Homo sapiens: one gene and its partners. The protein of the gene in region 1 interacts with the protein of each later gene in a pairwise test. Each region holds a gene or a part of one and is shown in the gene's direction. Other genes may lie near its edges.

The links.
Region 2: the proteins of KRT20 (region 1) and AMOTL2 interact in binary tests that used the Homo sapiens proteins (3 or more experiments, as listed by UniProt).
Region 3: the proteins of KRT20 (region 1) and USHBP1 interact in binary tests that used the Homo sapiens proteins (3 or more experiments, as listed by UniProt).
Region 4: the proteins of KRT20 (region 1) and TFIP11 interact in binary tests that used the Homo sapiens proteins (3 or more experiments, as listed by UniProt).

Annotation. Positions count from the first base shown.
Region 1 is NC_000017.11:40,881,360-40,891,029, reverse strand, and holds the start of KRT20 (keratin, type I cytoskeletal 20 precursor), read left to right. Parts: upstream 1-5,787; 5' UTR 5,788-5,844; coding exon 5,845-6,234; intron 6,235-8,375; coding exon 8,376-8,458; intron 8,459-9,670. UniProt on the Homo sapiens protein: Plays a significant role in maintaining keratin filament organization in intestinal epithelia. When phosphorylated, plays a role in the secretion of mucin in the small intestine.
Region 2 is NC_000003.12:134,354,847-134,357,447, reverse strand, and holds the end of AMOTL2 (angiomotin-like protein 2), read left to right. Parts: 3' UTR 1-2,101; downstream 2,102-2,601. UniProt on the Homo sapiens protein: Regulates the translocation of phosphorylated SRC to peripheral cell-matrix adhesion sites. Required for proper architecture of actin filaments.
Region 3 is NC_000019.10:17,246,602-17,254,745, reverse strand, and holds the end of USHBP1 (harmonin-binding protein USHBP1), read left to right. Parts: intron 1-2,728; coding exon 2,729-2,835; intron 2,836-3,041; coding exon 3,042-3,164; intron 3,165-4,331; coding exon 4,332-4,521; 3' UTR 4,522-5,575; downstream 5,576-8,144.
Region 4 is NC_000022.11:26,502,474-26,509,473, reverse strand, and holds part of TFIP11 (tuftelin-interacting protein 11), read left to right. Parts: intron 1-2,545; coding exon 2,546-2,699; intron 2,700-3,014; coding exon 3,015-3,171; intron 3,172-5,680; coding exon 5,681-5,808; intron 5,809-7,000. UniProt on the Homo sapiens protein: Involved in pre-mRNA splicing, specifically in spliceosome disassembly during late-stage splicing events. Intron turnover seems to proceed through reactions in two lariat-intron associated complexes termed Intron Large (IL) and Intron Small (IS).

The DNA of each region.
Region 1 (9,670 bases):
TATGTTAGTACGTGTGTGTGTTGTTAATATGAACAATGCTTCTGTGAATATTCTTGTACATGTCTATCGTTCAATATTTACAAGAGTTTCTCTGAAGTGTACACCTAGGAATTGTTTGCTGAGTGATGGCTATATGAATGTTCAGCCTTCTAAGATAATCTCAAACTATTTTACAAAGTGATTGTACCTACTTATACAGCTAACATGAATGGACTGGAATTCCCCTCGGCCACCTTGCTATCGTCCAACTTTTTAAATTTTTCCGATTGGCAGATGTGGAATGGGCCATTCAGCTTTCCTCTTCTCTGCAAATCTATTCATATTTTGCCCACTTTCTCACTGGGATGCTTTTCTTTTTCTTATTGATTTGTAGGAATTTTCCATATTCTGGAAACTAATTGCTTGTCAGTTACATGACTTCTAAATATCTGCTCCCTGTTTGAGGCTTTTTTCATTATAATTATGGTATATTTTAATGAATAAAAATTGCTAAATCAGTATCAATTTTGTACTTCACAGTTTTCACTTTTTGTGTCTTGTTTAAAAATACTCCTTTACTCTAATTCCTAGAGATATTATTCTGTGTTTTCTTCTAAATGTTGTATAGTTTTTAACTTTTCACATTTTTATCTTTAATGAATCTGGAATTCATTTTCTTATATTTTAGGTAAATTTTGCCTTAGACAGAAATACAACTGCCATTTGTTAAATATGGGATACTCCATTTCTTTCCTCATTGATTTGAAATGCCCAAGCCGTACAAAATTAGTTTCTATAGGCAACAGATCTGTTTCTGAGCTCTTTGTGCTAATTCACTGGCTTATTTCCAGATCATTGTAAGAGCCATCATGTGAAAGGCAAAACCATAAAATTAGAAAACATAATATGCATTCTTTTTTTTCTTCAACTTTTATTTTAAGTTCAGGGGTAAATGTGCAGGATGTGCAGTTTTGTTACATAGGTAAACATGTGCCACGGTGGTTTACTGCACAGATCATCCCAACACCCAGGTATTAAGCCTAGCGTCCATTAGCTATTCTTCCTGATGCTTTCCCCCCAACCACAGGTGCCAGTGTGTGTTGTTCTCCGCCATGTGTCCCTGTGTGGAAAATATAATATGCATTCTTAACCTGTCAATATCTAAAGTTAATCTGTATGTTTGCTGTTTTCCTAAACAGTCCCGCAATTTAGAACAATTTAACTCCATTCATCCCCTTCCAGCCCTCATCTACTTTAATTCCATATTGTTTTTTCTTCTCAATAGATATATTATTTTATAGCCAATACTTGTCTTTACATTTACATTTGGTCGCATGCTTAGCACTCTATTTGTTCATTATTTTAATTCTTTTATGCATCTCAGAACTTTCATCTGGAATCATCTTCCTTCTGCTTAAAACACATTCTTTCAGATTGCTCTTAGTGAAAACTTAGAAGTTGATGGCAAATTCAGTTTTTTAAATGTTGAAAATGGCTTTATTTTACCCTTCTTCAAATATAATGTTACCGAGTCAGAAAATTCCGGAATGGCAGTTATTTCCTCCCAGCACATTGAAGATTCTATTCCATTTCCAGTGTCCATTGTTGCTTTTGAGGAGTCAGTCATCAGTCTAACCACCATTCCTTTGTTGGTGATTTATTCTCTATCTGCTTGTAATTATCTGGTTTTCTGCCTCAATGTGTGTAGTGATTTATTTTTATTCCTTTTGCCTGGAATTCATTAGGTCTCCTTAATCTGAGAACTTGGGTTTTTTTTAAAGAATTCTATAAAATTCTCACTTTTTATTTTGTTGAATGTTTTCTTATTCTCTTGTGTCTTCTTCTGGAACTCTGATTAGACATATTTAGACCTTCTAATTATAGCCTTCATGCCTTCTTGACTTCCTCCTTCGTCACTTAGCTGCATTCTGGAAATTTTCCTCAGAGCTACATTTTGTTCAATAATCCTGGCTTAATCTGTTCCTGGATCCATCCACTGAACTTGTAATTTTAACGGCATTATTTATTTCCTCTGGTTTGTATTTCAGATCTGCTTGGTACTTGCTCCAATTTTAAGTTTGTTTTATTTTCTAAAACAATTTATATTTATATTCTTCATCCAATCATTCTATAGCCACTATGAGACAATAAATAAATCCATCCAACTCATCAAAACACAGCTGAGAATTACCAAATAAGTACAAACAAAAACCTAAATATGACTGATTAACTGTGCAGAATACAATGATGTAAGTTTACTATACATCAACCTCCTTGTACCCATCTCCTCGCTTCAACAAATAACTCAGGGCAAAACTTCCTTCATCCATACTTCCACCCTCCTTCTCCCTGTCTGAACAAGATGCCACTCCAGAGACTGCAGGTTCTATGTCTATCATATGTGATTGCAATAGCTTGGTCATGGTAGAATACAAAAAAAAAGAAAAAAGTTGAAAGCCCTCTGAAAACTGTAGTGCTTATAATAGCCTTCCCAACTACTGGCCATACTTAATATTAATCATTAACACTCTCAGTAGAGTGTCTCAGAAGTCAAAATGTATCTCCTACTAGCTACAAGGAAGTTGGGATCTAATAAGTATTTATTTACAGCTGCAGTCACCCAACAGCCTGAAATACCAGGGTCTCTAAATTCATGACTTTGTGTATGAACAAGGGTCAATAGGATCTTTACTCAGTCCTCGAGATATAACTCAGAAAAATGAATTGCTGTGAAAAACTCACTTGATTTCCTGTGGTCACATTATAAGATCGAATAATCTACAAAAGTACAAAACTCAGTGATATAGAGAAGCCAGCAAATTCTCCTGCCCTTATATAAACAGGTGGGAGGCTTTCCAGTAGAATTTTTTCTACTCCAACAAATTGGTAGATTGAATGACTATACCTCATAATGATGACACTATTGTATCATATTTTAGTTTAAATTTAAAACCTCAAAAACTTACCAAAACTAGCCAAAGATTTCTGGAATAAGATATAGACAAAGTTATTTCTCAAAAAAAAGAAAAAAATTGGCTGGGCCGGGTGCAGTGGCTCACGCCTGTAATGCCAGCACTTTGGGAGGCTGAGGCAGGCAGATCACAAGGTCAAGGGATCAAGATCAGGCTGGCCAACGTGGTGAAACCCCATCTCTACTAAAAATACAAAAATCAGCTCGGCGTGGTGGTGCCCACCTGTAATCCCAGCTACTAGGGAGGCTGAGGCAGGAGAATTGTGTGAACCGGGGAGGGGGAGGTTGCAGTGAGCTGAGATCATGCCACTGCACTCCAGCCTGGTGACAGAGCAAGACTCCGTCTCAAAAAAAAAAAAAAAAAAAAAAAAAACGGCTGGACACAGGGGCTCACACCTGTAATCCCATCATTTTGGGAGGGTGGGGTGGGAGGATCACTTGAGCTCAGGAGTTTGAGTCCAGCCTGGGCAACATAGTGGGACCCTGTTTCTACCAAAAATAAATAAATAAAAATTATGTAAGCATGGCGTGTGTGCCTGTAGTCCCAGCTACTTGAGAGGCTGAAGCAGGAGGATCACTTGAGCCTGGGAGGTCAAGGCTGCAGTGAGCTGTGATTGTGTCACTGCACTCCAGCCTGGGTCACACAGTGAGACCCTGTCTCAAAATAAAAATAAAATGGAAAATAACTAAAAATGGGATTTTCAACTCTTTGATATAAATAGGTCCAGCCATAAGGAAGAATTGTGCTACAAAAGAGAACAAAAATCATCATGTTTAACAACTGCATTCATGTTCTTTTCTAATTATAAAGCTAACTATTGATTTTATAATGCTTCTACACACCTTGATCATGTGTTAGCATATGAAACTCTTAGCTGAGACCAACTTACTATAAAACTTGTGTAATTTAAATAGTATAATTTTCCAATGACTTTAATCTAACAACCTCCTACCCCATTAATCAACACCAAAAACAATTCATCTTTGAATACATGTATAAAGAACATAGTTCATGTGTTTATAAAAAGTTCTTCTCTGCTACAGAGTTTAGCTGTGACATCTATTAACAAAGTAATTTATAACTCTAATAAGTTAGCAAGGTCTTCTTGCTACCAGTCCAGTCATTGGTGGTGAGTACTCAGTATTGGCTGATGAATACATGAATGGATAAAAATATAAGAGCTGCCCACACATATACCATAAAATGCATAAAATAGATTCCATTTTATCTCAATTTTTATTTCTGTGATATAACTAAGATAAAATCAAACACAATGTATTATTTTAAAGTATACTGTTTATAAGAGAGAAATAATATGATCTGACCTTATTTTAGAAGAAAGTTGTGTGTAAAAGAAATTTAAACTCAAAAGTAAAAAAGCCACTGGTTTCTAAAAACTCAAAAAAAATTTTTTTTAAGTGACTGGCTTTCAGAACAACAGCAACAACAAATAAGCCACTAAAATAAGACAATTAAATTCCAATTTTTTTTGCATTTACTTGCTTGCTTAATTATATACAAATCTCAATTCCATTAAAGTATCAGGATGACAATTAATTAGATGTTTTTAGTGACTTTTCCAATCCCTTCTAATTAACTTGGAAGTGATTAACTGATTATCTAATTATATTAATTAGTGATTATCTAATTAACTAAGGAAGTGATTTACATGCTTCATGGGAAGTGTGAATTCTCAGCCAGGGGGTTTGAATGAAGGGAAGCAAGTGACTCAGGCATTTATTGGTTGCTTACAATCAGATTCCCACCGATGAGATCATGCCCATGTGTCTAGAGGTCCACACACAAGCAGCTGCCTCCAGCCCAACCCTGGAAGCTGAGTGTAGTCCCAAGTCCCCGCCTGCACCCCTTCCTATATAAACAGCCACTCTCGCTGTGATTATGGGGGCATACAAGGAAGATCAGGCTTCCATGGAAGCTTCTGCAACTGAAATCCACTGGGGACTTTAGAAGGAGCACCTGTAAGTAGCTTCAGGATGGATGGGGCAGAGTCTGTCTCATGGTGGGTGTTAAGCTGGCCTCATACAAAAGAGGAGACCCATCCTGATACCATGCCAGGTACAAAGCACTGTGTGATTTATTCTAAGTGTCTTGGTAACAGGACTTGAAGCCAGGTGGTGACTGGAAACCTAAAATGCAATATTTAGTCATAGAACATTAGAAATAGAAAGAAAATAACCTCCCAAATCATCTAATCCATCACTCAGCTAAATTCATTTAATTCACATCCCCAAACTACATCTCCAAATGTACAATGGTTTCATTCCTGGTTTAGGGATTCGAGGTTTTGTGTTTGTACAAAATATTTTAATAGTCTTATAAAATAAGATGTCCAAAACACAATAAACTTAAAAGCCAAACACAAGCAAAGCATGAAACAGAGGTTCTGAAGAGCAACTCCTCAATACAAATCAAACATTGTCCTTTATCTCCATTGTGACTTTCAGTTATGTAGGCACATCTGCCTTTTTAGATACCTAAATTATACATGAGGATTGTAAATATTCTTTGTGTGTATGTTAGGATGAAAAAAACCTGCCAAGGCAGGCGCATGGGCTAAAAGAATACACTTTCCTGTTTCCTTTTATTACCTGTTTAATTAAAAAAAAAAAAAAGTTGCCCCTGATAAAAGCCTCCAAGAAATGCCTCTAGTGGTATTTTCTGGAATTGAATTAAGCATATTAACATATTGCTATACAAAGCGGGGGGCGTGGAAGTAAGGCAAGGTGGACTGTGGTGCCAATCCTAGTGACATGTCAGCAGAGGAGGAGTTTCTTGCCTGTGGACTTCATAAAAGGCTAGCTCAACACCCTCCATGAGACACACTCTGCCCCAACCATCCTGAAGCTACAGGTGCTCCCTCCTGGAATCTCCAATGGATTTCAGTCGCAGAAGCTTCCACAGAAGCCTGAGCTCCTCCTTGCAGGCCCCTGTAGTCAGTACAGTGGGCATGCAGCGCCTCGGGACGACACCCAGCGTTTATGGGGGTGCTGGAGGCCGGGGCATCCGCATCTCCAACTCCAGACACACGGTGAACTATGGGAGCGATCTCACAGGCGGCGGGGACCTGTTTGTTGGCAATGAGAAAATGGCCATGCAGAACCTAAATGACCGTCTAGCGAGCTACCTAGAAAAGGTGCGGACCCTGGAGCAGTCCAACTCCAAACTTGAAGTGCAAATCAAGCAGTGGTACGAAACCAACGCCCCGAGGGCTGGTCGCGACTACAGTGCATATTACAGACAAATTGAAGAGCTGCGAAGTCAGGTGAGAGATGATGCTTGTGTTTCCTACTCTGTGTTTAGCTTCAAGATAAATCAAGAGGTTATCTATGTTAGGTAGGTCCAAATGGACTTTGTAAAGCAAATTAGGCTAAAATGTTACATCTATAAAAATTCTTTCATCTACCTTTAGTGCTGGAGTACCTGACTGTACAACAGGATGACCTTAAATCATGCTATTTTTAATGTTTAACACAATTACATACAAAATATGAACATTTTATCCTCCGGAATAAAATGAATCTTTGTCACAGCTTATCACATCAGGGCTAAATGTATAGTGAACAATCTTTCTGAAAAGAGCTAAAAATTAATTACGTGATAAATCTCTCTTAGTTTTTCACCTAGTCCTTATCAAGTTTTGAAACCCCAGTAAATTCAAAGACTTTTCTCCTTTTATTTAAGTAAATGTTATAATATGACTATTAGAATACTGTACTGCAGATTTAAATAGCAAAGTGATTCTGGGTGGAAACAGTGTGGCAGGAATATGGGTCTTAATGATGCCTGGATTTTTAAGTGCCCTGTTTAATAACATGACCATCAGCATCAAGCAGTTCAGAAACTACTTCTACAGTAATAAAATGTTCTATTGCCCCCAATTCATGTTTATTACAATCATATCACAACCTCCTCCTATGTCATCAAAAAAAGGGTGGAGCTCTGTATTTTATCAGTTTCATGGAATAAAAGCAGAAGACTTTGCTCCTAATTGAAAATTTCAGATATGACACAGAGCACTTGCTTCAAATTAAAGTTCTTATCTAATTAAGAAAAGTGTTCACTGTAATTTGTGTTAAGATTCATACTCCTTTAGAGCAAAGCGCATTTACTTACCAGCAAGTCTGTTTTTCTTGAGTTGTACTAAACATCAGGGCAATTTGATTCGGACTCCATGGGAAGTTACTTTGGAATTTTAGAAACTATGGGCATGTGAAGCAATGGCATTTAAATAGCCCTTCCGGAATAAAGTTCATCCTTCGCAAGCTCTCACTAAAAATGTTCGAACCACACCTGTCTCGTGTTTCTGACTCTAGTTTGGTTCATCTGAAATACACAGGCACAGGCCATCCGTCCCATTGAGCTGGACAGTCCCAACCATAGGAAGCAGCCCTCTCCAAAACTGGGTCCATTGAAAGAGAAATGTCATTGTAACATCTTCTGCAAGTAGATTTTTCATCTATATGCCTCCATCATGCATTTCGTTCTTTCATGCATCATGTTCTTTCATTCAGCCAATACTGAATGAACACTAACTAGGTGCTGGGCACCATGCTGGGGACTGAGGAATATTATGGTGGACACAATATGATTTATGAGGATACAGGGATGGACAGAGGGACCAGCACACAGAGGGATAATGAGAGCACAGGCAGATCATCCAGTTCAGTTTTGAGAGCATCTGTGAAGGCTCCTATGAAGCAATGTTGTCGAACCTGAGACATGAGGGAGGAATGGGAGTTCACCAGACCACAGGGGCTAAAAGAAATGTCCTAAGTAGAAACATCAAAGGCAAGGCACTCAATAAGGTGTGATGACTCAAGTTGAGTTAAATTATCCTTCTGTAAAATCACAAGAAAGTAGACCAAACCCTGGGGCATCTAGAGTTGCATTTTATGACTCTGTTATGTTAAATAACTATGTCATTATTTTTTCTATATATTTTCATGTAGAAATACTTGAAATGAACATCATTTTTGACATAATAGTCACTGTAGCTGGGGATAAACTAAATCCTTGTAAACTCCTATCCAGTTGAAAATGTCATTCTTGGCCGGGCACGGTGGCTCACGCCTGTAATCCCAGCACTTTGGGAGGCCGAGGCAGGCAGATCACCTGAGGTCAGAACTTCAAGACCAGCCTGGCCAACATGGCAAAATGCTGTCTCTACTAAAAATGCAAAAATTAGCCGGGCATGGTGGCGGATGCCTGTAACCCCAGCTACTCGGGAGGCTGAGGCAGGATAATTGCTTGAACCTGGGAGGCAGAGGTTACAGTGAGCCGAGATCGTACCATTGCACTCCAGTCTGGGCAACAGAGCAAGATTCTGTCTCAATAAATAAATAAATAAATAAATAAATAAATAAATAAAAAAGAAAATGTCATTCTTTCTCATGTATTTTCCAGATTAAGGATGCTCAACTGCAAAATGCTCGGTGTGTCCTGCAAATTGATAATGCTAAACTGGCTGCTGAGGACTTCAGACTGAAGTAGGTTCCCTAATACGTGGCAAAAGTTTCTGAAAAAGAATTCCTTTAGTAGTCCTTCCAGATACTCAGCTTTCCATATCATTGTTGATAAAGGAAGCACGGTTCAATGTCCAGAATCCTGAAGCCTAAAGGAGGTTAGAAGCTACATGTATGAAGCTAACCCAGCACTCAGGGATGGCCTTCTCTTTCTTGATCCCCCGGCATGTAACTAAACACCTCCAGTAACTACTATTCTCCTTGGTTATTACTGGTTGCTAAATTTTTTTTTAGTAACCTGGTATCTAAACCTAATTCTGCCCTTTGGAGTAATAACAAAGTAATTTACAATTCTCCTTCTCCCTAAGTGCCTTTCTGTTATCTAAAGAGAGTCTTGTGTCTACCCTTGGTGATTCTCCAAGTAATTCTCCACGTTCATTCAAGTGCCTGCAAGTGTATGACCCAAGTTCCAGGGGTGACTCTTGATGATTTCTGGCTTGCCAGTGTTTTACAGGATGGTCTGGCCAACCAAAGAACCAGGACCAATCTATAATAATTAGCTGGGCGTGATGCCGTATGTCTGTAATCCCAGCTACTCCGGAGGCTGAGGCAGGAGAATCGCTTGAACCTGGGAGGCGGAGGTTTCAGTGAGCTGAGATCGTGCCATTGCACTGCAACCTGGGCAACAGACTGAGACCTTGTCTCAAAAAAAAAAAGGAAGAAAGAAAGAAAAGAAAAAGAAAGTAAAAATTGTGTTCACTTTCTTTGTAGTCATCACACCACATGTGACCAGACCTGTTCCTTGCAAACAGCTTCCACACTAAGGCCTCTTCATCCTGAATTTGTACAATGCATTAACACCAAAAAGCCCTTTGTGGTTAGAAGGGTAGCCTTTTAATGCTCCAAGGGATTAACAAGAAGGAAATAGGAAATCAAATCCAAAGATGAAAGCAGTAAAGGTGCATTACTTCCAATTTTACCTAGCACTGAGTGTCACATTGCAGTGTCATTTTTTAAAGTTGGATATTTTAGGAAACTGGGCAGGGCATGCATGATGGCTAACGCCTGTAATCCCAGCACTTTGAGAGGCTGAGGCAGGAGGCTCACTTGAGTCCTGGAGTTTGAGAACAGCTTGGGCAACGTGGCAAAACCACATCTCTATACAAAAATACAAAAAAAATTAGCTGGGCATGGTGGCATACATCTGCTGTCCCAGCTACTTGGGAGGCTGAGGTG
Region 2 (2,601 bases), on another chromosome or scaffold:
CCTTGACTTCTTGCCCAAGGCCTGCTACTGGGGTAGCAACTGACAGCTCAGAAAGGAGCTGAGCTCCCTCTGCCCTGCCAGTTGTCAGTCAGGCAGGGAGGGAGTGGCTGTGTTGGTTTGGGGAACTAATTTCCACGGACGGCTGCCCGTGGACACCAGGTGGACTGGTTCACTAATCAAGTCAGCCATATTGTTCTCTGGCTAAGTTTGGTTCCAGCCAACGTCATCTGCTCTTCAGTTCCTCACTGCCTTCTTGGGATACTAAGACTTGAATTTTTTGGGGACTATTAAGGGTGTTAGTCTTGGAGAAGACACAGCCTCACCTTCTCACTTGCTGTGGGTGAGGGGCCATTTAAGTGGACTGGGAGACAGTGCGCAGTTTGTATATAATTCCCTTTCTTGTGGAACAGAAGACTGAGGCCTGCAGGTTCCGATGTGTCTCCATGGGCTGTGCTCCCCTCTTCCTACTGTCAGTTTCTGAAACTTCTGACTGGCCTCCCAGTTATGCCTCCTCCTCAAGTTCCTGGCCCGTGGATGTTAAAGCTGCTCGATTCCCAGGATCTCGGCTGCCTTTTCCTCTATCTTGAGCCCTATAAATGCCCACGGGACCCCCACCACCAGCCTCTTGAAGTGGCTCCACAGCTCCTGTCCCTGGAACATCCTGTCAGTTTGGTCATAAACCCTGAGCCAGATGAAATGAGCCACCGTGAACAGACATCTGCCATGCCCCCAGGTGGGCTTCGGTGGCCCTACCCGGTACCAGTTCTTTCTGAGAAACTGGAGATGTCTTGTTAGCATAAGTGTCTTCATTCCCACCTGGAGGGTTTGGGAGAGGAGCAAAGCAGTTGAAAACTAGTTAATGAGCTACAAGAGTCAAATAGTCCTCTGAATGGAGCCCCCATCACAAAACAGTGCCCAGGAGGCTGGCTCCTCAAGCTACCCATGCCCAGCGCCCTAAAGCAGCACCAGATGCTTTGGAATTGGGGTGAAACACCCACATGGCAGCCTGCTAGCAGCAGTGACTTTGACTTCTGGTCTTAAAGAGTCCCTCACTTCAGCCCCAGGAGCTATTGGTGGGTTTTAGCAGTTTTGTCTTTACCGTTTTTAGTTCTCCTTGATTCTTTGTTTTCTTCCTTTATCGTTTTTAGGTTTGGTATGTGTTGTTTTATTTCCATGGTTCCTCAAGTTTCCTTTTTAAACATTTGCATTTGCTGGACAATTGCAATTTTTTTTAAAAAATTCCCCTACCCCTGTTTAAAGCTGAAAAATACATTTGGTTCATGTGCATTGTTTACAAAGCAAAAAGAAAAAAGAGGAAAAAAAGGCAAAAAATATTGTGAAAGAAAAAAAACAACTTAATATATTTTGGATTAATATTTGGTATTTCTTTTAAAGTATTTTTTGTGCTGTGAACATTTTCTGCCAAAGACCATGATGTGTGTCTGTATGTTTAAGTTATCGTAAATATTTAAAATGTAAACATGGCTGTTTTGTTATGCCACCCTGTACCAGGATTGCTGCCGCATTCCACTGGGTATAACAGTATTTTAATTAAAAAAAAATAATTAAAAGTGATGTCTTTGCACAGGTGAGACTTTGCACTGAGGGAAGGGAAAGGGTGAGGATTTTGGGGGGCCACCCAAGTCATAGTCCAATCTCTTCAAGGACCCAAGATAGAATTTAGGAATTTTGTGAAGCTGCATTAAGGATAGAGTTGGAATGAGGATGTGGCTGGCATTTTTCCCCTTTCATAGATAACATTTCTTGAAGGCTGGGAGGGGAAGGAGGGCCTGGCAGATGGCAGCCTCCCGAGGTAGGGCTGTGTTCTAATCAGCTTTGTTCGGCCACACGCTGTGGTTATCCACAGTGGGAGTGGGTGTCCAAAGATGGCTTTATCCTTCCCCCACTCCTTTTCCCACTCCCACCTAGCACATAAAGTTTTGTCCGAAACCATCCAGAAGGCCAGGCACCATGCAGAGGACATTCAAGAATGTGCATGTTCTTAGCCACCGCCTCCCTCCTTTGCTGTGACATCACCACTCTTTCCTGATGCTCAGGAAAGCATATTGCTCCAATTCAAAATTAAAGAAAGCCATTCTCAGTCTTGCTTGTTCTTGTATCAGAAACAAAATACCTGTCTTGTGCTTCTATAAGTGTGTTAGGACCCTGAGGTTCCCAGTCAGCATGTGGCCAGCAGTTAGCTGGCCATGAGGCAGCAGCAGGCTACCAGACAGCCTACGTGACATGTGACAGGAACAGTTTCCCACCATGGCCGTGAGTGAAGTGTCTTCGGGGCCAATGTGGGAACTCGGGAGCCATGTTGATGAGTAACTAAGTTGAGATCCTAGAGAAGGTGTCTTCCCGAGCTGGCCTACCAGCCCACAAGTATGAAGACAAGCAGGTGGAAGAATTGGAAACATCCAGAAACTTTTCTAGCAACTTTGCAGATGGTGATGGGTCCCACTGGATGAGGAGCTCTCCATGCAGAGGCATCAAACCCACCCCATGGCCACACCTCCACCCAACCCTCCAGCCTGCCTCCTGCCACTGGGGCACTATCTATGCCAGCCTTTCTCCCATTGAGCCCTGAACTAGAGTCAG
Region 3 (8,144 bases), on another chromosome or scaffold:
CGGAGTTGGAGGCTTCAGCGAGCCACGATTATGTCATTTCACTCCAGCCTGGGCCACACAGCGAGACCTCATCTCTTTTTTTTTTTTTTGAGACAGAGTTTTGCTCTTGTTGCCCAGGCTGGAGTGCAATGGCCCGATCTTGGCTTACCACAACCTCCACCTCCTGGGTTCAAGTGATTCTCCTGCCTCAGCCTCCTGAGTAGCTGGGACTACAGGCACGCGCCACCACGCCCGGCTAATTTTTGTATTTTTAGTGTAGATGAGGTTTCCCCATGTTACTAAGGCTGGTCTCGAACTCTGAACCTCAGGTGATGCGCCCGCCTCAGCCTCCCAAAGTGTTGGGATTACAGGCTTGAGCCACTGCACCCGGCTTATTTATTATTATTTTTTATTTTTTTTGAGGCAGAGTGTCGCTCTGTAGCCCAGGCTGGAGTGCAGTGGTGCAATCTCGGCTCACTGCAAGCTCCGCCTCCCGGGTTCACGCCATTCTCCTGCCTCCGCCTGCCGAGTAGCTGGGACTACAGGCGCCCGCCACCACACCCGGCTAATTTTTTTTGTATTTTTTTAGTAGAGACGGGGTTTCATTGTGTTAGCCAAGATGGTCTCGATCTCCTGACCTTGTGATCCACCTGCCTCAGCCTCCCAAAGTGCTGGGATTACAGGCGTGAGCCACCGTGCCTGGCCAATTTTTGTATTTTTTAGTAGAGATGGGGTTTCACCATGTTGGCCAGGCTGGTGTAGAACTCCTGACCTCAGGTGATCTGCCCACCTCAGCCTCCCAAAGTACTGGGATTACAGCCATGAGCCACAGCGCCTGGCCTTTAATTTTTTTTTTCTTTTTTTTTTTTTTTGGGAAACGGATCTTGCTCTGTCACCCAGGCTGGAGTGCAGTGGTGCGATCTTGGCTCACTGCAATCTCTGCGTCCCAGGTTCAAGCGATTCTCCTGCTTTGGCTTCCCGAGTAGCTGGAATTACAGGCGTGCACCACCACACCCAGCTAATTTTTGTATTTTTAGTAGTGACAGGGTTTCACCATGTTGGCCAGGCTGCTCTCAAACTCCTGACCTCAGGCTGATCCGCCCGTCTCGGCCTCCCAAAGTGCTGGGATTACAGACGTGAGCCACCACGTCCAGCCTAATTTTTAAAAAATTATTATTGGCCAGGCACGGTGGCTCACACCTGTAATCCCAGCACTTTGGGAGGCCGAGGCGGGTGGATCATGAGGTCAGGAGTTCAAGACCAGCCTGGCCAACATGGTGAAACCCTGTCTCTACTAAAAATACAAAAAAATTAGCTGGGCATGGTGGCACGTGCCTGTAATCCCAGCTACTCCAGAGGCTGAGACAGAGAATTGCTTAAACCTGGAGGGGTGGAGGTTGCAGTGAGCCGAGATTGCGCCACTGCACTCCAGCCTGGGCGACGAGACTCCGTCTCAAAAAAAAAAAAAGAAAAAAAAATTATTACTGTCCGGGCACGATGGCTCATGCCTGTAATCCCAGCCTGTAATCTTAGCACTTTGGGAGGCCGAGTTGGGCGGATCACGAGGTCAGGAGATCGAGACCATCCTCGCTAACACGGTGAAACCCTGTCTCTACTAAAAATACAAAAAATTAGCTGGGGATGGTGGCGGGCGCCTGTAGTCCCAGCTACTCGGGAGGCTGAGGCAGGAGAATGGCGTGAACCCGGGAGGCAGAGCTGGCAGTGAGCTGAGATCACGCCAGTGCACTCTAGCCTGGGCGACAGAGCGAGACTCTTCTCAAAAAAAAAATTATTATTATTTCAAACAAGGATTAGACAGGAGGAAGGACTTCCAGTGGATCTCTAGTTTTTGTTTTTGTTTTTTTGTTGTTTTTTTTTTTGAGACAGAGTCTCACTGTGTTGCTCAGGCTAGAGTGCAGTGCTGCGATCCCAGCTTACTCCAACCTCTGCCTCCCAGCTTCAAGTGATTCTCCTGCCTCAGCCGCCCAGTTAGTTGGGACTCCAGGTGCCCGCCACCATGCCTGGCTAATTTTTTTTTTTGAGACCGTATCTTACTCTGTTGCCCAGGCTGGAGTGCAGTGGCATGATCTTGGCTCACTGCAACCTCCGCCTCCCAAGTTCAAGCGATTCTCCTGCCTTAGCCTCCCAAGTAGCTGGAATTACAGGGGTCTGCCACCATGCCAGACTAATTTTTATATTTTTAGTAGAGACAGGGTTTCACCATGTTGACCAGGCTGGTCTTGAACGCCTGACCTCAAGTGATCCACCCGTCTTGGCCTCCCAAAGTGCTGGGATTACAGGCATGAGCTACCACACCTGGCCCCTAAATTTTATTTTTAGAGATGAGGTTCGAGACCAGCCTGGCCAACATGGTGAAACTCCGTCTCTACTAAAAATACGAAAAGTAGCCGGGTCTGGTGGCATGTGTCTGTAATCCCAACTACTTGGGAGGCTGAGGCAGGAGAATCGCTTGAACCTGGGAGGCGGAGGTTGCTGTCAGCCAAGATCGTGCCACTGTACTCCAGCCTGGGTGGCAGAGTGAGACTCTGTCTCAAAAAAAATTTTTTTTAATTAAATAGGATATTTCCCTTATCAGAGTATAATTTTGCTCTTATTGGTATATCGAACCAGATGTGGGTCTCTGAGAGCACAGCAGCTGCCACTGTCTGGGCAGCTCCAATGTCCAGTGTGGGCCAAGCACGGACTTGGCCTAGGTTAATGTCACTTTCTTGTCTTCTGCCTCCCTTAGGGCCTTCCTGCTGTCCCTGGTGGCACCAGTGGCATTGATGGTGGCCAGGTGGGCAGAGCCTGGGACCCAGAGAAGTTAGCCCAGGAACTGGCAGCATCGCTCACCAGGTGTGTGCCTGGGTCCTGGGCTGTGCGGGGGGTGGGCAGGCAGCCTATGTGAGAGCCCCCGGGGGTGTCGTCTGCAGTAGAAGCTAAGGTGTACCCCGGTGTACAGGTGTGTTTACATGACAATACTGTGGGCAGGTGGGTAGGAGGAGACCTGGGAAACAGGATCGGCTGGGGCTGTGAGCCCCCTCTCTTCTCCTTCGCAACAGGACACTGGACCTGCAGGAGCAGCTGCAGTCTCTGCGCAGGGAGCTGGAACAGGTGGCTCAGAAGGGGCGAGCCAGACGGTCTCAGAGTGCCGAGCTGAACAGGGATTTATGCAAAGCCCACAGGTAGGACTGTTCTGCATCCCCCCAATCCCCCTGGCACCATCCCCCACCAGGATATCAGAAGTATCCCTGGCTGTCTCTGGGCCTTAGCATTCCCCACTGCCCCAAGATAGGCAGTAACGGTCAGGTGTGGTGGCTCACACCTGTAATCCCAGCATGTTGGGAGGCTGAGGCCAGCAGATCACTTGAGGTCAGGAGTTTGAGACCAGCCTGGCCAACGTGGTGAAACCCCATCTCTACTAAAAATACAAAAATTAGCTAGGCGTCTTTGCACGTGCCTGTAATTCCAGCTACTTGAGAGACAGGAGAATTGCTTAAACCCAGGAGGTGGAGGTTGTGGTGAGCAGAGATCACACCACTGCACTCCAGCTTGGGTGACAGAGCAAGACTCTGTCTAAAAAAAAAAAAAAAAAAACAACAGGCTGGGCCAGGCGCAGTGGCTCACGCCTGAAATCCCAGCACTTTGGGAGGCCAAGGTGGGCAGATCACCTGAGGTCGGGAGTTCGAGACCAGCCTGACCAACATGGAGAAACCCCATCTCTACTAAAAATACAAAATTAGCCAGGCGTGGTGGCGCATGCCTGTGATCCCAGCTACTCGGTAGGCTGAGGCAGGAGAATCGCTTGAACCCGGGAGGCAGAGGTTGCAGTGAGCCGAGATTGTGCCATTGCACTCCAGCCTGGGCAACAAGAGCGAAACCCCATCTCAAAAAACAACAACAAGAAAAAACAGGCTGGGCATGGTGGCTCACGCCTGTAATCCCAGCACTTTGGGAGGCTGAGGCAGGCGGATCACCTGAGGTCAGGAGTTCAAGACCAGTCTGGGCAACATGGTCAAACCCTGTCTCTATTAAAAAATACAAAAAAATTAGCTGGGCGTGGTGGTGGGCGCCTGTAATCCCAGCTACTTGGGAGGCTAAGGCAGGAGAATCACTTGAACCCTCGAGGCAGAGGTTGTAGTGAGGGGAGATCTTACCATTGCACTCCAGCCTGGGTGACAAGCGCGAAATTCTGTCTCAAACAACAACAACAACAACAACAAAAGACCAGCTAGCTGGGACCCTTGGAGACCCAATGTGAAAGAGCCCCCATTCTGGGAGTGGGAGTACACGGCCCTTGCCTTGGGTGGACTCGGGGGCTGTTTCCTGACCCAGCCACCCACCCCTTCCAGCGCCCTGGTCCTGGCCTTCCGAGGAGCCCACCGGAAGCAGGAAGAGCAACGCCGGAAGTTGGAGCAGCAGATGGCACTCATGGAGGCTCAGCAGGCCGAGGAGGTGGCGGTGCTCGAAGCCACTGCAAGGGCCCTGGGGAAGCCCAGGCCTCCCCTCCCGCCTCCCCAGCTTGGGGACACCTTTCTGTAGGCCCCTTACCCAGCCATGTCTGGACATGCCAGACAGCTGTGGCATGTCATAAACTGTCCTGGAGTGACATCATGTCATGTTGCATGATTTGGCATGTTGGGGCACATTTGGCGTGAGGGAAGCTGGTGCACATGGGTGTCCAGGGCCTGATGGGGTGTGGCCAGGCAATGAAGAAAGACTCAGGTGTCTTTGGCCTGGCACCAAGTGGAATGTGAACTTCATATCAGTGGGGTCAGGCCAGAAGCAACCTGGGCTATGGGACCAGGTCCCTGGGACTGACGCATTTCGGGGGTCCGTGAGGTTGCATAGCCACAGCTGAAGTTCCAACTGGCCTGTCTCCCGAAGCCCAGGGAGGGATTCATGGGGACTGGACAGAGCTTCTCCTGGCAGCCCCTTCCCAGGGAGATGCTGGGTTTGGCTGGCAGATTTTCCTGAAGGGGGCCGGGCTCAGTGGTGCACATCTGTAATCCCAGCATTTTGGGAGGCCAAGGTGGGTAGATCACTTGAGCCCAGGAGTTCAAGACCAGCCTGGGCAACATGGCAAAACCCCATTTCTACAAAAAAATACAAAAATTAGCCAGGCGTGGTGGCATGTGCCTATAAAGATATTTAGGAGGCTAAAGTGGGAGGGTAACTTGAGCTTGGGAAGTGGAGGTTGCAGTGAGCTGAGATCACGCCACTGCACTCCAGTCTGGGTCACAGAGTAAGACCTTGTCTCAAAAAAAAAAACAGGCCAGGCGTGGTGACTCATGCCTGTAATCCCAGCACTTTGGGAGGCTGAGGCGGGGAGGATCACCTGAGGTCAGGAGCTTGAGACCAGCTTGGCCAACATGGTGAAACCCCCGTCTCTACTAAAAATACAAAAATTGGCTGGGTGTTGTGGCACATGCCTGTAATCCCGGCTACTCGGGAGACTGAGGCAGGATAATTGCTTGAACCTGAGAGGCGGGGGTTGCAGTGAACCGAGATCGCGCCAACAACAAGATCGTGCCCGGGCAATAAGAGCAAAACTCTGTCTCTAAATAAATAAATAAAACACAAAACAAAACAAAAAGGAGGGAGACTGAAGCTGGAATGGTTCAGATTCAGGGTGTGGATGACGAGTTGCTACTAACTCAAAGCTAAGGTCAAGGGTTTCTGGACTCCATGTGGTCGAGCTTGCCTGTAATCCCAGTATCTCAGGAGGCCGAGGGAGGAGGACTGCTTGAGCCCAGGGGTTTAAGACCAGCCTAGGCAAAATAGGAGAGTCTGTCTCAAAAATAAATAAATAAAATAAGGTAAAGGGTTTCTGGGTGGGGGACAGGCATAGCAAAGGTAATAGTCTGGGACTCAGGGGGCGTTGTACTTCAAGAGAAACTCAGAATGAATGCCAATGGTGGCCAGTTCCAGCTTTCTCCTGGGGGCCCAGGAGCTGTGGGACGTGTCAGGTTAATAGCAGGCAATGAATTAGCATGTCATTTGCATAAGTCACATCTCCCTGCCCCTCCACACCAGGACTGGCTGAGTCTGGGAAAGGGGAGCTTGGAACGACCCAGCCAAGCTTGGATTAGTGGCCAGCTGTCCCCCTTCAGGGTGGCAGCTGAAACCCGAGACAGGGATTAGAAAGACTTTCATTCCCAGCCTTGGGGGCAGGTGCTCCAGGCCTCACCTGTGCAGGTGTGTTCACCGCCTCTCCCAGGGCAGGACCACGTCAGCCTGAGGTCAGCGCCAGTCAGCGGCCTGGACTTGAATCCAGTCAACCTGACCCCAGAAACAGAACAAGAAGTATGGTGGCGAGCACAGTCCCCTCCAGCGAGGGCTGGGGCTAGTCACCTTCCGACCCACACGCTGTCCCTGGACTTGGGCCAACTTTGAAGAAAGCAGGGAAATGGAGGCAGACCACCTTGCTCGTGTTGGGGTGGGGCAGAGAAGCTGAATTTCTTCCCTGTACCCTGCCGAGCCCCAGAGTCTAAGACCTGAGTTCCTGGTCCCACCAGGTTGCCTGTGGAGGGGCAAAGGGAGCCAAGGTCACATGTGGGAGGACGGAGACAGGTTCCCAGGCTGCCCCAGCAGGATCTGGCCATTCCCACGGGTGCCCCCTCAGCAGATGGGCCTAGGCCCCTTTGTCCCTGGTTTGCGGCCGCCGCAAGGTCAAATGTTACTGCAGGGCCGCGGGCAGGGGTCAGGGAGGCGGGGTAGAGCCTTGATCCACCCCCAGGCGGGCCCCAGGGGGCACAGGGGTGGCCAGGCTACTGGAAGGGGGTGGGGCAGCCTTTGGGACTGGAACTACTGGAGTTTCTGGGATCTGCGATGGTCTTTCTTCCCCCATCTCCCACCCAGCTCTCAGCTGCCTCGCAAGACTTGTCTCCCCCAAACCTAGTTCTTTGCTCCCTCCCCTTCACAATCCCCTCAAGATTCCTTGAGTCTTCTCTCCCTCTTCTTTTTTTTTTTTTTTTTGAGACAGGGTCTTGCTCACGCTGGAGTGGAGTGACGTGACGTGATTATAACCCACTGCAGCCTTGAACACCTGGGCTCAAGACGGGTCTCACTTTATTGCCCCGGCTGGTCTTGAACTCCTGGTCTCAAGAGATCCTCCTGACTTGGCCTCCCAAAGTGTTGGGATTACAGGCGTGAGCCACAGCGCCTGTCTCTCATCTAAATCTCTTTTCAATCCCTTCTGAGACCTCCACCCCAATGCTCCCCACCAAAGATCCTAGCAGGTCCAGGCAAGGGGCCTAGGATCCCTGCCCTCATCCCAAATTACCAGTCACATTCCCATGCAGCCTCAGAACCAAAGGGTCGTCTCTGCCCACCCACGCCTTCCTCTCTCCCAGCAGGGATTACATCAGGCTGTGGGCAGAACCCGACTCTAGACCTCGGGAAGTCCTTGCTCATGTCTAATCCTAGTCCTTCCTGCTTTTCGTGTTTACTAACGCCTCCTCCTCCACCTCCCAGGCAGCCAGAACGTCCCTGGAGCAGGTTGAGAGGCCCAGGGCTGGGTGTGCCTGGCTCTCCCAGAACCTCAGTTTCTTTTTAAGTGTTGTAAGATCTCTAAGAATCTTTCCCCCTACTCCAGGGAGGGCAATTCTTCAAGTCTCATCAGGGCTCTGGGAGGCAGAGGAGGGGGTGCGCAGAAGGCACTGTCCTGGCCAGAGCTCTCAGAGGCCCAGCTGCATGCTCTGGTGTCCAGCTCTGGGCTCAGGGCGGGGTGGGACCACAGTCTGGGTGGCTGGGGCTGCAAGACTCCGAGGTGAAAGGTCACTCCTGGAAGGGCTTGTCCAGCCGGTTAAAGGTTAACCTGCCCAGAGCCAGAGGCTCGCCAGCCCGGGCCTCGCATACAAAGGGTGCTTAATAAATGCTGGTCGGGCGGGCCCCAGCCCCGGTACTGGGGGATGGGGTGAGTTGGAGGTGGCGGCAGCTGCGAGGCTCCAGGGCGCCTGGAAGAGACATCTGCAGTCCAGCCGGCCGCCAGGCCAAGCCCTTTCTGCAAAGCACAGAAAGAAAAGGAAATTAAAAGGGAAAAAGGGGCAGGCCCCCAGACAGGGCATGCCTGTCGCCTCCAGCCGCGCGGGGCGGGTGGGCGCCCTGCCCCCGGAGGCCAGAAATTCTGCAGAGGGGCCCCCTGACCTCGCGGCCCCGGCCAG
Region 4 (7,000 bases), on another chromosome or scaffold:
GAAATAGGCATTAACAACTCAGACGATCAAACTTGTGACTGTGATGCAGGACATGAGGGACATGAGGACATGAGGGAGAACACATTTTAGGGCATTTCATCTATTCTGAGAGGTCAAGGAAGATTTCTGTGGAGAAAAGTGACCCTTAAGCTGATATGACTGACAGTAGAAGGTAACTAGGGTGGTAGAAGAGGTCCCAATATGCAAAGGCCCTTGATGGGAAGCATCACGGTATCCACAAGGATATGAAAGGCTTGGGGGCTGGAGCAGAGAGGGGGAAGGGTAGCATAGTGTGTGTGATAGAGAGGGTGTGATGTGGGGCTGGGTTATGTTTTGAGAAGACCCTTTTGCTGGTGTGCTCAATAGGCATGGAGCCACAGTGGAAGACTGTGAGGAGGCCAAGCCAGTGGTCCCTGCACAGGTAGTGGAGGACTGGTCTAGGATAGTGGTGGGCAATGAGGATTCAGGCTGCACGTCTTCTCCCCAGCACAAGGTTATGTGTGCCCTGGCTGAACCTCACTCAACCAGGGTGTGCCAGGTTGGGGGTTTTTTCCTCCATGGCCTCACCTGTGGCCTCTAGGCTCTATCCTATTGAGAGTGTGCCTTTTTCTTTTTCTTTTTTTTTTTTTTGAGATGAAGTCTTGCTCTGTCGCCAGGCTGGAGTACAGTGGTGCAATCTTGGCTCACTGCAACCTCTGCCTCCTGGATTCAAGTGATTCTCCTGCCTCAGCCTCCCGAGTAGCTGGGACTACAGGCATGTGCCATCACACCCAGCTAATTTTTGTATTTTTAGTAGAGACGGGGTTTCACCATGTTGGCCAGGATCTCTTGACCTTGTCATCCGCCTGCCTCGGCCTCCGAAAGTGCTGGGATTACAGGCGTGAGCCACCACACCCAGCTGAGAATGTGCCTTTTTCAAAGGAGGCTGGGGGAGAAAGAGTATAGAGATTAGTCCAAACTTCTCATCCACAAGGAAGTCTGAAAGTGGATGACAAATAGATCAGGGAACAAGAATTGCATAATCATAAGATAATAATAATAGCTAACATCTCTTGGCTGCTTACTTGTCCTGGCTATTTCATAAACCTGGATTAATTTTCCTTATGAGAAAGGTACCATTATTGTCCCCATTTTACAGATTAAGAGACTGAGGCTAATGGTCATACAACTAGGCAGAGGCTAAGCTAGAATTGGAACCTGGACCTATCTGACTCTAGAGTTTGGGATCTAAATCACTAAGTTATATTACAATTTTAGGAAAAAACTCCCTAAATTCTGTTGTTGCCCTGAGGGTGTTGAATTACTAGGTTGGTCATTTTACAAGGCATCCCTTTATTTGCTGTATTCCCAGGTTTTCTTTTTTTCTTTGAAACACAGTCTCTATTACCCAAGCTGGAGTGTGCAGTGGCGTGACCTTAGCTCACTGCACCCTCTGTCTCCTGGGTTCAAGCGTTTCTCATGCGTCAGCCTCCTGAGTGGCGTGGGATTACAGGCGTGTGCCACCACACTCAGCTAGTTTTTTGTATTTTTATTAGAGATAGGATTTTGCTATGTTGGCCCAGCTGGTCTTGAACTCCTGGCCTCAAGCCTCCCAAAGTGCTGAGATTATGGGCATGAGCCGCTGTACCTGGCTCCAGGGTTTTTTATTGTAATTTTTTCTTTTTTAAACCACACAGTACAAATATATCAATTTTATTTTATACAAAAAAGACCTGAGGTTAATGGCTTAATGTAAGTACTTGAAGCAGTCAGAGTTTAAATCAATATATTTCATTTTATAGAGTTAATTTCTTATTTCTTAGGGGACTTTAGTGTAATTTTCTTTTCTTTTTTTTTTTTTTTTGGAGATAAGGTCTCACTCTTTTGCCCAGGCTGGGGTGCAGTGACATGATTATAGTTCACCGCAGCTTCAACTTCCTGGGCTCAAGCAATCCTCCCATCTCAGCTTCCCATGTAGTTAGGACCACAGGCTTGCACAACCATGCCTGGCTAATTTTTATTTATTTTTTTTTTATAGAGACGAAGTCTCACCATGTTGCCCTGGCTGGAAATTTTCACATTCAAATAAATTTAATGGCTAGGAGCTTTTTCTAAGTTTGATTAATATAATTGTTACATGCTTTACATTCATATAATCTTTCAATGGGTTTTATTTATGATTTTCCATCAAAATTTCTGCTCCTGTTGGATTTTTGTACTTGAAATAGTTTTCAAAACAATTGCTTTTTATGATAAATTAATTTTTTAAAATGTAGGAAAATTGTATTATCACATCATATTTTGAATTTGTAATCAACCCTACATTGATGTGATAACTCTTCAGCCGTAGAGGGATATGTCAGGTAAAATGTTAAATGTGACTACAGGAAGCCAAATCTGGGGTCCTTTGGATTTTTTGACACATTAAAAAATGTGTTACTTTTTTAAAAAACCTCCCATGAGATTCACTCTAAGGAGTCTTCAAGCACGTAGTTTCTGCAAAAGGATCGCTGCAGAGAAAAGAGTTCTTTACCGACCTGGTGGGGCTTTGTTTCTGTGCCTACAGGGCCCGTGACTACTCTGCGCCAGTCAACTTCATCAGCGCAGGGCTCAAGAAAGGGGCAGCGGAGGAGGCAGAGTTGGAAGATTCTGATGACGAAGAGAAACCTGTTAAGCAGGACGACTTTCCTAAGGATTTTGGACCAAGGAAGCTAAAAACGGTAGTCTCTATTGCAGGATTGTGACCCTAGGAATATCCTTCAAAGGTCATTGTGGCCCAAGCATTTTCTAGCCAGGGAGAAACTCATCTGGAATGAATTTCGTGAGTGTCTCCTTTTGGTGGCAGGTTTCTGTGAGTTGTGAAGTGTGTAGTGCAGTCTCTTCCTTCCTGACACGTTATCACACACATTTTTGGTTCATATGACACTTTTCATAGTGCTGTATAACTTAGGCCATTTTCCTGTTGGCCAAGCTTTCTTAGATTTTTCTTCATTTTGTTTTTCCATTAACTAAGCTTTGATTTTTCTTTTTTGCAGGGTGGCAATTTTAAGCCCAGCCAGAAAGGTTTTGCAGGAGGAACCAAATCTTTCATGGACTTCGGCAGCTGGGAAAGACACACAAAAGGAATTGGACAGAAGCTTCTTCAGAAGATGGGCTACGTCCCTGGACGGGGCCTCGGGAAGAATGCACAAGGTATTGCACCTTTGTCGTCTTGCATGATGGAGGAGGGCAGGCATAGGGAAGGAGAGGGGCGTTGGGAGAGGAGGTTTGCTTTTCCCTTTTAAAAGCACTTTATCTCTCCAGCCTGGTTTGCCAGCACAAGACATTTGCGTTCCTAAGCTACCTTGCTTTATCAAAGCTCAAGTTAAATAAGTAATTGTTTCAACAGCAAGGAAAGGGTTAGGGTCTAAAACAGGCTGCAAACAGGTTGAAAACAGGCTTTTTTTCTGGTCCTGACCAGTGCTTCTAAAAACAAAAATGAGGCTGGGTGTGGTGGCTCATACCTGTAATCCCAGCACTTTGGGAGGCCAAGGCGGGTGGTGGATCGCTTGAGGTCAGGAGTTCAAGACCAGCCTGATGAACATGGTGAAACCCCGTCTCTACTAAAAATACAAAAATCAGTTGGGTGTGGAGGCATGTGCCTGTAATCCCAGCTACTCAGGAGGCTGAGGCAGGAGAATCGCTTGAACCCAGGAAGTGGGGGTTGCAGTGAGCCGAGATCACTCCAGCCTGGGCAACAGAGCGAGACTCCATCCCTGAATAAATAAATAAATAAATAAATAAATAAATAAATAAATAGAATAAATAAAAACAAAAATGAATTAGTTGCTAATATTTAAAAAACAGACAATTTCACCTAAAATTCTAGATTTTGCCTGGCAGTAGTTAGTTGAGGCAAGTGAGAACTGCTCCTGGGACGATGGACATGGCCTTCTCTTGGAGGCAGTCTCCATTACCCCCTGTTGTCTTCCACCCCAACCCACAGGAACTTTTCTTGGTCCCAGAGTCATTTGAGTTTGCCATCCCTACTCACAAGGGTTTTAATTTTGTGGAAATAACCCTATTTGTCCTTCAGGAATATCAGTAAAACATCGTGCATAGTTTTTGTAATAGCTAGAGCCATATGGCTATAAAACTGGCTGAGCAAATCCTGCATTGGTTACTTCCATCTTCCTCTAGTAGCCCAGTCTCCTCCTGTCTTCTCATGGCCAGCCCCATTGAGACACAGCCCCTGTCACACTCTTACCTTCTTGAGACCAAAGCCTCTCAAACCAAACAGTTGGATTCTTCCTACAGGAACATTTCCCCCTCTTCTTGAGCTATTTCCTATGCATGATTGCCAAGTAGATATAATCAAATGTATCCTACATATTCAAATTCCAGTCTCTAAATAATAATAATAACATTATTATTTTTTGAGACAGAATTTCACTCTTGTCACCCAGACTGGAGTGCAGTGGCACGATCTCAACTCATCTGCAACTTCCACCTCCTGGGTTCAAGTGATTCTCCTGCCTCAGCCTCCCGAGTAGCAGGGATTACAGGCACCCGCCACCACGCCCAGCTAATTTTTGTATTTTTGGTAGAGACAGGGTTTTACTGTGTTGGCCAGGCTGGTCTCGAACTCCTGACCTCAAGTGATCCATCCTCCTCGGCCTCCCAAAGTGCTGGGATTATAGGTGTGAGCCACTGCGCCTGGCCTCTAAATAATTATTAAAGTGAAATCCAGGTTATGTGTTGAAAACATTAGGTACATGAAAAATACATGAACTTGAGTAAAGATACACTGAATGAGAATGAGGGGACAGTTTTTTTGCTTTTTTTTGATACAAAGTCTCACTCTGTTACCTAGGGTAGAGTGCAATGGCATGGCATGATCATAGCTCACTGCAGCCTCAACCTCCTGGGCTCAACCCTGCCAAGTAGCTGGGACCACAGGCACACTCTGCTGTGCCTGGCTAATTTTTTCTTTTTTTGTAGATGGGGTCTTACTATGTTGCCCAGGCTGGTTCAAGACCTTGGCCTCCCAAAGTGCTAGGATTACAAGCATAGCCACCACATCTGGCCCAGGGATAGCTCTTATTTAAGACTTCAGTGGAACTAAATGGAAGGGGGGCAGGGATGGAAAATTTGGAGTCAGGGGAACGTCTTCATTGAAATGTTGTGGTCCTATTCGTAAACTCTTTTATGAGAAAAACAACGTTTATTTCCAGGGCTTAAACTTGTTATAAAAAAGTTAAACACAGGAGATAGGAACTCCTAAGTAAAATATGTGAGGAGTCTTATATTAAATTGCAGCTTCACTTCAGTCAGAATCAGTATAGTATTGGAATTATTGCATTTTCCCTAATAGAGGCTCCCAAAGAAGTGAAGCATAGAATTTAGTGTGCTGGAGTTCTCAGTTATAAATGTAGTGTTCTGTTTTCTTCCTGTCCACTAAACAATCCAAGTGGAAATGGAAATCTATTTGGGATATAAATAAACTAGTCAGCAGACTGTTCTGTGGTAGCATAAATGCTCATAAGTTTCAAATCACAAGGGACAAGAGTAGTGTTCTGAGGGCAGAGAATAGCTCTCCTTCCTGAGTAGCATGTTATTTTGTGGAAGGAGCAAGAAACTGTCATTTCACTGAGTGGCTGATTCACATACATGAATTGCTGTGATCGTAAGACTCTCTTTTTTTTTTGCTGAAATTCCTCAGGTATCATTAACCCAATTGAAGCCAAGCAGAGAAAGGGAAAAGGTGCTGTGGGGGCTTATGGATCCGAGCGCACCACTCAGTCCATGCAAGACTTCCCTGTGGTTGACTCAGAGGAAGAAGCTGAAGAGGTAACTGGAAGTCAGGAGACATGGGTGGATGGTGTCCTGTCCATTTCTAATGGCTGTTCATTTATCCCTTCATTCTGTTAGTCCTCAGATGTTTATTGTACATGTACCGTATGCCAGGTACTGGGCTGAAGGCTAGGTGCACCATGATGAGAGGGCTAGGGTGGACAGAGAGTAAACAAGCAGCTGTGGTGTGGAAGTGGCAGTTGAAATGGCAGAAGGTGCCAGGAGCTGCCTAGACAGAAAATAAGGCTGGGGGTTGGGAGGTGGTGTTGACCTACTTTTATAAATAGGCTGGTCAGGGAAACCTTTTGGGAAAGGAAACATTTCAGTTGAGACTTGGCAGAAGGGTGAGCTGACAAGCCAGAGGACACTGAGAGGCTCTGAGCTTGGTGGTTAAGAAACCATAAAGGAAGCCCTTGCGGTGGGAGGGCGGTACACAAAGCAGAGGGGAAGGAAGTGCATTCAGAGGGGTGGGTGGTCCACAAGACAGCCATGACAGCCATTTTTAGGTGCTCAGGTTTCATCCCAAGTGCAGCAGGGAGCCATCTGCTGGCAGCTGTGTGTCCCTTTTCCCCAGTGATAGAAAGGGCCAGCTCTCTTGATTGAAGTATTACTCTTTTCCTGTTTGAATTTATGGGGGAAAGCAGGATGCTGCAAAGAGACATGTTACTCTTCATGTCACTGACCTTTTCATGAAAGAGTTATTTGATAAATGTGGGATTGACCACTGTGAGTCAGGTGTTCTCAGAAGCCTACAGGTGCCAGGCACACCACAGAAGCAAGTAAGATGAGCCAGGTGCTAGACAATAAAGAGTGGTGGGGACTGTGGCACAGAGGTGAGGCTGTAGTCTGTCTAGAAGGTAAATCTTTATTCAGCTCTAGGTGATTGTTGCTTATGAGGATGTGGGCTCAGTATTGCCTGATCCTCTGATTTTCCCAAAGTAGCCAGATGTCTAGATACTTTTAGAGAAAAAATGACAAGTCTTAACCAGTATGAGAAAAACATAGTGACAACCCCAAAACCAACTTCTGTGGGCTGGACTTTACTACCGTCACACTAAGAAAGTTTACAAATTTGTGTTCGTAAACAGGCCGTATTCAGAGCCGTCCTGGGCTGCGGGTTGGACAAGCTTGCCTTAGCTCCTCCTCTAGAAAGGTTTTGCAGACCCTGATTGTAAGAGACACCTTTGCT